3 separate regions of the Homo sapiens genome follow, and all the other regions are reported to be linked to region 1. The links are microRNA targets in miRTarBase. Many come from high-throughput screens and were not tested one by one. Region 1 holds a microRNA gene; each other region holds the end of a gene's coding sequence.

What was found. The annotated mature microRNA hsa-miR-4693-5p reads AUACUGUGAAUUUCACUGUCACA and lies in region 1 at 1,013-1,035, shown strand. An mRNA with a match to its seed (bases 2 to 7 or 8) in the 3' UTR can be bound and repressed. Matches are read on the target gene's strand: a 7mer-m8 pairs with bases 2 to 8, a 7mer-A1 pairs with bases 2 to 7 and ends in A, and an 8mer does both.
Region 2: the mRNA of REST is a reported target of hsa-miR-4693-5p. Seed matches in the 3' UTR shown: 7mer-A1 at 1,024-1,030.
Region 3: the mRNA of CLASP1 is a reported target of hsa-miR-4693-5p. Seed matches in the 3' UTR shown: 7mer-A1 at 2,228-2,234.

Annotation. Positions count from the first base shown.
Region 1 is chr11:103,848,903-103,852,467 of GRCh38, forward strand. MIR4693 (microRNA 4693) reads left to right here and starts at 1,004; the gene lies at 1,004-1,078. LOC102723862 (a long non-coding RNA gene) reads right to left here and starts at 649. Exons shown (of 4, transcript XR_001748346.2): 1 at 512-649.
Region 2 is chr4:56,931,837-56,934,836 of GRCh38, forward strand. REST (RE1 silencing transcription factor) reads left to right here. Exons shown (of 4, transcript NM_005612.5): 4 at 1-3,000. The coding sequence ends at 316. Among named protein-coding and RNA genes, the nearest start is that of REST, 25 kb to the left of the region's middle.
Region 3 is chr2:121,338,420-121,341,419 of GRCh38, reverse strand. CLASP1 (cytoplasmic linker associated protein 1) reads left to right here. Exons shown (of 41, transcript NM_001395891.1): 41 at 473-3,000. The coding sequence ends at 559. Among named protein-coding and RNA genes, the nearest start is that of TFCP2L1, 55 kb to the right of the region's middle.

The DNA of each region.
Region 1 (3,565 bases):
TTCATATGTTTAAGCATCTTTAAGATCCTCACTGCAGCGAAATAAAGCTCAGAACTTCAAACACTATAAGTATTCCCAGGCCCTTGCTGCTATGTCTTAGATATTTACAGCTTCCCCTGAATTCTTTTTTCTTTATCCTTTGTTTTGGGGAAGGTTGTTTTATGTTTTTCTATTCTCACTTATATTATTTCTCTCCATTTCAGTTTAATATTATTTTTCATTTTTCCTTAATATTCATAATTCAGTTTTCCCCCACACTTGGCACCCTACCCTCTACCCTCTGTCTTCAATTCTTTCCACAATTTTCGCTCCTTCCCTTTTTGCTGTCTCAAGTGAGAACATAGGCACATTTATTTAACCCCACTGGAAATCCTGTGTTTTTGTAGGAAAAGACTTGCTTTCTTGGCAGTGCTAAAAATAAAGTAATTACTGAAGGAATGCATGATGGGGCCAGTTAGTAACCTGATAAATGGAACTTGGATACAAAGCAGAGATGAATAAAAAGACTCACCTGGTCCAGGATACTGGCTTAAAATGAGCCCTGCAGCAAGGCTGACTTGATTATGAGCTCCAAACCAGGAGGCTTTTCTTTCCTCAGTCTAGGAGGCAGGAGTAAGCCTGACAGTGGCAAGAAAGTATCCTCAAGAGTGGGCTAGGGAGGGATGGGGTAAGTTGTGCTGGTAAGGACACCGTGGGAGCAGTGAGCCAGTACATTCCATTCTTACATTTTTTGGCTTTAAAAAACGGAAGGACAGAGCTATATTACTCCATTTCTATTTTGTGAAAAAGTGTAAGCTTAATAATTTTAAAACTCAAGGCTACGTTTGATTTTTCCAAAGCACAATTAAATAAAAAATAGCTCCCTCAGTGGCTCATACCTATAAGAAGCCAAATGGTTTGGATAAAAATACTATTCCCAAGTCACCAGCATCAGCCTGTATAAATAAAATTATTAGGACAGGCAAAGCAATTCAGAGGAAAGAGCATCGCTTGGGGGTAAAATGTTTAAAGAATACTGTGAATTTCACTGTCACAAATTCAAATAAAGTGAGAGTGGAATTCACAGTATTTAAGGAATCAATCCTTGCTGCTTCTGTTTATGAAGCCGAGCTTCAGTTTTCTTGCTCTGACAATGGACACAGTGATTACCTCAAGGGTTGCTGTAGGAGTTAGATGAGATATCTATAATGTAGGAAAGGTGTTTACTACAATGTAACTCATGGATAGGGGCCTATATTGGTTTTCCATTGCTGTGTAACAAATTTCCATAAACTTAGTGGCTTAAAACAACAGACATTTATTATCTTTCATTTCTGTCAGAGGTCCAGGCAACTGAGTGGTTGATATCTCTGTTCAGGGTCTCACGAGGCTGAAATCAAGGTGTCAGTTAGCTGCATTCCCCTCTAGAGACTTGACTAGGGAAGGATTCTTTTCCAAATTCCTTCAAGTTGTTGGTAGAAGTGTTTCTTGCTAGCTTCAATTAGGGATGGATCTCAGCAACTAGTGACCACTCTCAAGTCTTTATTATATGGCCCCTTTTATACTCAAAACCAGCAACAGAGAATTCCCCCTCACATCAAATCCCTCTCACACTTTCAATCTCTATGACTCAGAAACGGGCTCACCTGGCTAGGTCAGACCCACCAGAATATTCTCCATTTTGGCTAGCTCACAGTCGCCTGATGAGCAATGTAATCATAGCAGTGGTATCATACACACAGGTCTGCCTGCACTCAAAGGAGAGTGATTATCAAGGAATGCACACCAGGGGCGGCAGGAATCTGGCAGCTATCTTAGAATTCTGCCTGCCACCATTTCCATTAAGTGATTGTTGTTGTTTGTTACTGAGGCATAGATGAAGTAGCACTTATGCAGGAAAAAAACCACTAGTCAATCAGAATTTCAAGTTGTATGATGAGGTATTCCATAGAAATTAAACATGCGTATAACAGATTCTCATAGGTCAGGACACATGAAAAATTTAAGGAAAGGATGAGGACTCCTTAATTTAGAGGGACTTCTGAAAGGTGACTTAATGATGACCCAACACTATATGTGAAATCATGTTTGGCTTCAAAAGCACTGTGGGCAGAAAAGGAGAAAACGTTTAATCTAGAGTACACAGTTATGGCATTATCTGGAGGGAAGGATAAAGCTACAAAGATTGTTAAAACTAAAATTTGTTGCCAAGGGAGCCATTCGAGCTCTGTCTGGAGATCTTCTAAATGAGAGTAAATTATTCTGTACTTGAGGTGGTTTGGGCACTGTCCTCCCTGAAGCCAATGTAGAGATAAAGTGTTGTTTTCACTCCTTCTAGTCCTGTGATTCTGCGTCTAAGGAGGCAAACCACCTATTGAATCAGTGCTCACCACAGGCTCCATTGCAGCATTGAACTGTGTCTGTGAGAAAGAATAAGGTTAAGTCAGGATTCCTTGATTAAGACGAGTTAATATAAACACTGAAAATCCAGTGTGCTGCCAGCATAGCTTTTGGCAGCATCAACACAGAGAAGAAAGAGCTGTAACAGAATAACAGCAAAATAACTTCGGGTCCTTCCTTCTCCTCCACCCACAAAATCCCATTTGGTGATATGAGAATCTAAATTGCTCAGTGCTTGGATGTTTGGCTGTCACATGTCATTGTTGTGTTGAACCTTCCCAGGCATGTACAGAGCTCACTGCTCAGGAGATTAATGTTCAAAAGCCAAAATGCTTGACCAAACTTGAAATCTATTTGTGGAATTTACTGTTTCATCATTGAACCATGAAAAAATAAATTCAGCAAATATAGTCCTAATACTCCAGCTCATCATGAAATGTCTCTTAATTTCTTGACGTGTCCATGAGTTAGAGACAGCTGAGAAAGGTTTCATTATCTTTGTCTACTTACATACATTCTTTCTCATTTCTTTTTCTTTTTAAAATCTAAGGCTTTTTTTACTTGAGAAAGGAGTTGTTCCGATTACTGTCAGTTTCTCTGGCTGATGTGATTTTCTCATCAGAAGCCTTGAACCCTTCTCCTTTTAACTTGATAGCAAAGAGAAATCATGATAGCTTCTTTTGACATCACTTTACACAAAAACAAACAAAACAAAACAAAATTATCATAAACTGGTAGAACAAGAAGACAGCATGTAGGGAACAAAACAACCATGTTCTTGATTCTAATGAGGTACATGATTTACTCCTACCATGGAAAATTCAAATATCTACCCTTGAACTTCAACAAGCATTTATGACTTGTTGATCTACTTATAGAACTAAATGATTATTTTGCAAAACATCATCTCTGTCTTTAAGTACTCCCTACAGAAGAAAGAAATGGAACATTAGTGTAAACATGATGGTCACTAAGAACTTGTGGACACTGAAGAAAGGCTATGGATAAATGATCCAACAATAAGAGAAAGCTTCTGAGTATGCCTCAGACCAGTGACTGACTGGGTTTTCTGGGAATATATTTTTTGGACAATGGGTCCAGGAAGACAATAATAAATATTGGAAAAACTTCCTACAGTCTATAAAATCCCTTTTATTTAGATAATCTCACTGGGAGGAAGGTAAGG
Region 2 (3,000 bases), not on the chromosome of region 1:
TCCTGCTACAATGGCAGCAAATGAGTCTCAGGAAATTGATGAAGATGAAGGCATCCACAGCCATGAAGGAAGTGACCTAAGTGACAACATGTCAGAGGGTAGTGATGATTCTGGATTGCATGGGGCTCGGCCAGTTCCACAAGAATCTAGCAGAAAAAATGCAAAGGAAGCCTTGGCAGTCAAAGCGGCTAAGGGAGATTTTGTTTGTATCTTCTGTGATCGTTCTTTCAGAAAGGGAAAAGATTACAGCAAACACCTCAATCGCCATTTGGTTAATGTGTACTATCTTGAAGAAGCAGCTCAAGGGCAGGAGTAATGAAACTTTGAACAAGGTTTCAGTTCTTAGTTTGTAAGGTATATTACATTTTATATTCATTTATGATAGCAGACAACCTTTTAAGATTGCTTTAATTAGTATCTGATGTTGATTTTTAAGTGGCATTCTTTTCCTTAGGACTTTTTATGTATACCTGTTGATTGTTGTGTAAATTTTAGTAAATCTAAGAGAGTGTACTAAACCAGCAGGTATCTGTTAGCTTATGTGTTTAATTGAAATTAGAAGGCTAAGATGGTATAACAGCATTTTATTGCTTTGTCCAGCTACAACTTGTCATTTTTTTCTCCATGTCTTATCTTCCTGTTTCACTTTAGTTTATTCTTCGTTTTTTATTGAGATCTATAAAAAATTGGCTTACTTAATAGCAAATTACTTGAAGAATTTGCCTGCTTTATATAAAGTTAGCACTTTAAGATTTTTTTTTTTAGAGATGAGAAGACATTTAAATTGAAGAAAAATTCCCCCAGCAATAGACAGTCTATCAGTCCAAGTATTTACTTCCTGAGTTTTGATCAATATTTTTTATTTGTGTATGTTAATCGTCATAAAAACAGTGATTTTGGTGTGTTTTTTATTTTGGTGCTTTAATGGCTTAAGATGTTGCACATTTTTTTTTTCTTTTGGTTTCTGTTTATGTTTTTTTGCCTATGCAGTTAAATTTTTCCTAGAAATAGCATTTGTGTTGAACAGTAACACTTTATACATATATATATGCATGTTTATTTTGTTTGGCGTCTTTGGAGGGATGCTTTTAGACTTGTTTGCAAAAGGGCAGTTTTCTTTTTCTTTGCTGCAGTTGTCTATTTTGCAGAATAATAGTGTGTGCAAGTTTGTGAGCAAATGAAATATGCAGGTTCAATCTATTGATTTTGATTTTTACATCTTATATCTATGCCAGAATCTGTATTTCATATAACTTATTTATTTCGAATGGATGTAGTAAATTCACAGCTATCAGTTTTGATTTTGCAATAAATAAACCACTAGGTTGCATGTCGAACAAATTTTTATCTCAAATACCAACCATCAGTTTTTTTTTTCATGTGTTTTGGTACAGCTAATTCCTAATTGTAGAGTGTTAAATGTTTGAGGAGAACCTTTTCTCATAGATGGTTGGTGTTCATATGGCTACTTTACAATAAAGAGAACTGTAAGTGATATTTGGAAACTACAAACCTGGAATTAGGAGATATAATTATTCCTTCAAGTTTTATAGAATATCACTTGGGAGATTCCAAAGCCATAGCTATTACGCGGCAAACCTAGGATAAGAAAGGTAGTATGAGTGCTGGTAGACCAGCTGCAACTTTCCTATACAGTGAAAAAGGCTGGTGAAACAAGTACAGTCCAGATTTTTTAAAATCATACTTTCTCAGGGATCTCCACAAACTGGTGGGTGTCCTGGCTGTCTGTGTGATAGCCTCTTTCTATAGGTGAGGCCTCAAATGAATTGCAGCTATCCTGGTGTTCCTATGAGGGCACTTTGTATGAAAAAGGGCATGTACTCCAAAACATTTTTGTAGGTTCTTTGGCCAGTTGCCAAAGAGTGTGAAAGAATCCAATAGAGGATTTTTCTTACTGATAGCAGTCATTCATTGCAGTAAAATAAAATATGATCCCATTAGGGAATCTTGAATTCTGACCTCCCATACTCCGTTTTGAAATAACCACTTTATATTTCATTTTTTAAAAATCTGATGATCTCTTTGAGGCAGGTTTCAGATTTGGCAGTACAACATGAAAGATTAGGAAAAGCATTAATAACGTGTGGGTGGAAAGCTTGTTAAAAATCTGAGAGTGAAGTTTGAGTTAAAAGTTGTTTGAACATGGCATTGACTGGGAGGCCAAAGATTTAAAGAAGCGGAAGATTCTTCTCTTAAGACATGAGGAGTAAGTTGTGTGATAATGGTATGTGTTTTGTGTGCATGAATGGACATTGTAAATGTTGAATTCTAGGCTCCGACAATCATTGTCAACAGAAGATCAAGCTGCAAATATTTATGTTTTAAAACTTAAATTATAAAGCTAGTTAAGTCTTTCTAATGACTAGTTTTAATGTTCATGGGTACATTTTACCTAAGTTACCGTTTACATTGTATAGAAAAAGATACATCTTAAGCACAGATTGGTTATTAGGAATTAGTTTGGGGAAGAGGTTTTTTTGTGGATTCTTTCATACTGCAAAGAAAAACCATTTGCCTTTTGGGGAATTGAGCTAACTTCTAATCTAGTCTTAAGACTAGAATGCTAAAAACAAAAACATGAAGGAAATTAAAACCCCTTATTATTAAATTGATTTGTAAAAACATTGTTACTGGAAATTTATTGGACTTGAGGCCTTCCTCCAGAAAATAAGGACTTGATTGTCAGGCCTATATTAGGTTCTGAACCTTAATGCCATGTATTTGTACTTACTAAAAATTGTTTCAATGAAAAGTACATTAGCAGTATGAACTTCTGGTCCAGTTGGAAGTTTTTCCATTTGAAAAATGTGATGTTTGCATGGAACTGTTTGAAACTTTTTTATTTTCTAGTCCCCCTCCCCCACACTGGATAGAATTTAGCCTAGAATTTTCCCTTTGGATAAAAGAACAAAAATTGAACATGTTATTTGTAAATTGATGTTTAGTAATTAGTGATAAACTTGAAATACTAGCATATAT
Region 3 (3,000 bases), not on the chromosome of region 1:
AGTCCCAGCTACTCAAGAGGCTAAAGGTGTGAAGGTTAGAGGATTTGCCCTCTGACCTTGGCCCAGCCACTTCCCCCCTGTGGAGCGGGGTTCTCACCCTGCTTTTTCCCTGGCTCTGATGGAGCCTTTGGGCTGCAGTCGTGCTTGAGATGAATGGCCCTGCCCCCGTATCCCTTCCTCCATGAGCTGCTGCGGCCCACCTAGTTGTGACACCTGGTGGTGGTCTTGTAATTGCCCACGGCTTTTCCCTCTCCTCTGGACTCTGGCCTCCTCCCTCCCTCTGTGGCCCTAGCACCTGGCAGATGCATTGGATGGGCAGCAGGCACTCAGAACATGTTTTTATAATGAATTCCTCAACCAAGGGAACTAAGGGACTTGCTGTTTCCTTACTGTCACCTGGGATTCTTTTTGCTGTTTTCTACTTTCTGATTGCTTTTCTTCCTGCTAATTCAGTTTCATCTTCTCTTTTCAGATGAAGCTACTAAACTTATACATAAAGAGGGCCCAGACCACCAACAGCAACAGCAGCTCCTCCTCCGATGTCTCCACGCACAGCTAATGGCAGTACCTGTCTCTTGTGTAGACCTAGAAGCAATCGGTGGTGCCTCTCAGAGACCTTTCCCCACCCCCTTCATCGGCTGCCCAGTCAGTACAAGGAGGCCCACAAATATTTATTACAATCAGTATTTTGGTCCCTTCCAGCTTTTCTGTAGAATCTTACTGGTATTGAATGTAAAGGAAGCAAGGCCTGTATTGCAGTCTTCATACAAAACAAAAGGAATAAGAACAGAAAAGAGCCATACTGAAACATGTCTTGTACAGCCTGCTGAGATGGCGAAACCCTGTGTGTGGGGTGCAGTTTTTAAAAATCAGAGCGCTCTAGCCACTACTTGGTAGAAAGTAGCATTTTTTTTTTCAGTTAATAACATATTTGGGGGTGGGGTGGGGTGTTACTTTGTGTTCTTCCTCCTTAGCCTATTTTCTTGTGCGTATGGTCTGTGTGGGGCCCCTTTCACAGCTGACACCACGAAAGGTGATATATCTTTAAGTTGTGTTCTGAGACCTACTAAAAATGGGAATCAAGTCTTGGCAAGAACAGTCTGAAGATGGCCTTTTAACAAACGCTGGGAATTTTGCTTGTCATATCCAGACTGGAGGCCGACTGCCCTGGCTTTCAGCGTAGAATTGGGAGTGCACCCTGACAGTCTCCTTCCAGCTCTCCCTAATCGACTCCACCGACAAGGTCCCTACCCCAGAGCTTCCATGCAAAGGAATTCTTCAAGTTTAAATCTGGACACAAAAATAAGATAAATGTATGGCATCATTTAGGGATGCCTGAGATGGCAGTTCATGAAGCACAGAAGATAAAGAAGAAGTCTTTCATCTTTACTGCTGAGATCCTTGGGAACACTGTTGTCATGGGGGCTCTGCCAAGACCCTCATCTCTGGGCTACACGGTGATTCAGATTGAGCACCAACTTGTTTCCTCCCCTCAAAGTTCTGCCTAAGCCGTTCAGTTCTAACATGGTCTCAGTTAATCTGGTAAATGGCATCTTTACCATCTTAGTTCTGACTTCTCAGTTTAATGTGGGATTAAGAGCCAAGAAAAGCCTAGAGAGACTGGATATCACAATTTTTTTTAATTTTATAAACTGAAGTAGTTCCTTGAATGTCTGTTGATGAAATAGTCACTGTTTAAGGAAAAAAGTAATTATGAGGTGTAGCAGATTGCAGAAAAACAGGATTAGAAACACACTTAAAAAGAACACACATTTAGAGTCTCTCTTCCTCCTCAGCGAACCACTAGGCCCCCTTTTTAAAAACACCTTTAGAGCCTAATTACTCCAATAAAAGTAACTAGAGGTTTGGAGTCTGGTTAAATAAATTCTGAGTAAAATTCTTAAGCCAAATGGAAATTCTTAATGCAATCATGAGGACTTCTATTGTCTCTTACTGTTGTATTAGATCCTATAAATTGAACTGATTTTTCCATAAGGAAAATGCTTCTTTTGAGATTAATTCTAATAACGTATTTGCTATTGCAGTGCAGAGCCCACTGCAACTGCTAGGACTGAAAGCAGAGGCTGGGTGCCAGAGCACGTGATTCTTAACATCATTTCCACAGACCCCTCTGCCCTGACCCTCTGCATTGGATGCAGGAAGCTGGGAAAGACTGATGTTGATTTGGAAACATGGGCTGAAAATGAAGGCCCCATAGTGCATAGGAACAGTAAAGCCAGGGTGCTGACGTGTGTGTGTGTGTGTGTGTGTGTGTGTGTGTGTGTGTGGTGTTGTGTGTGTTTGTGCGTGCACCCTACACATGTGTGGTACCTCACTGCTGCTGTTTAGGGAACTTGAGGGACGCGTTTCAAGGGGTTGGGTATTACTGACGAGCTTTGGCTCAAAATATAGCAGGACCAGGTCTTTTGTTGATAAGTACTGTTTGTTTATTAATATGTCATTAATGGTATTTCTTTTTTACACTCTACAAGTGAATTAGGGAGTCTCTTGTTGACCCCTTTGTTGCAGGAATGTGCGTCGGGCTAGGTTATCCATGAGTTTCTTTATTCCTAATGCAGTTAGAAAGACCTTTCTCCTTGAGCTCTTTGACTCCCAGAAGGTACCCCAGTCCCCAGTGTACTTAGAAAGGATCTCGAACATTGCTGGACGTCCTCATAGTACTCACAAAGGGCTAGCCTTGAATGTCACTCGCCCAGTCTTCAGTCTCCTGACTTAGAGATACAATCACGTCACAGGTCTCTTGGCCTCAATCTGAAAACTGCTGCCGCCGCGCCGAGGAGACTCGCATGCCGCCACCACCTCACTGGGAGGGCGCCGAGCCCACCGTCGCCCCCTAGACCCTGACAGCTGCAGCTGCCTTGCCTTGCCGCCGCCTCCCTGCAGGGCCCCTGTTCCAATGAAAAACAGAACACAAAAGAGCAGAGCACCTAAGCCTGTCTCTGCCTCCCTGTCTACCGGACTGGCCAGGGCCCAAGACCC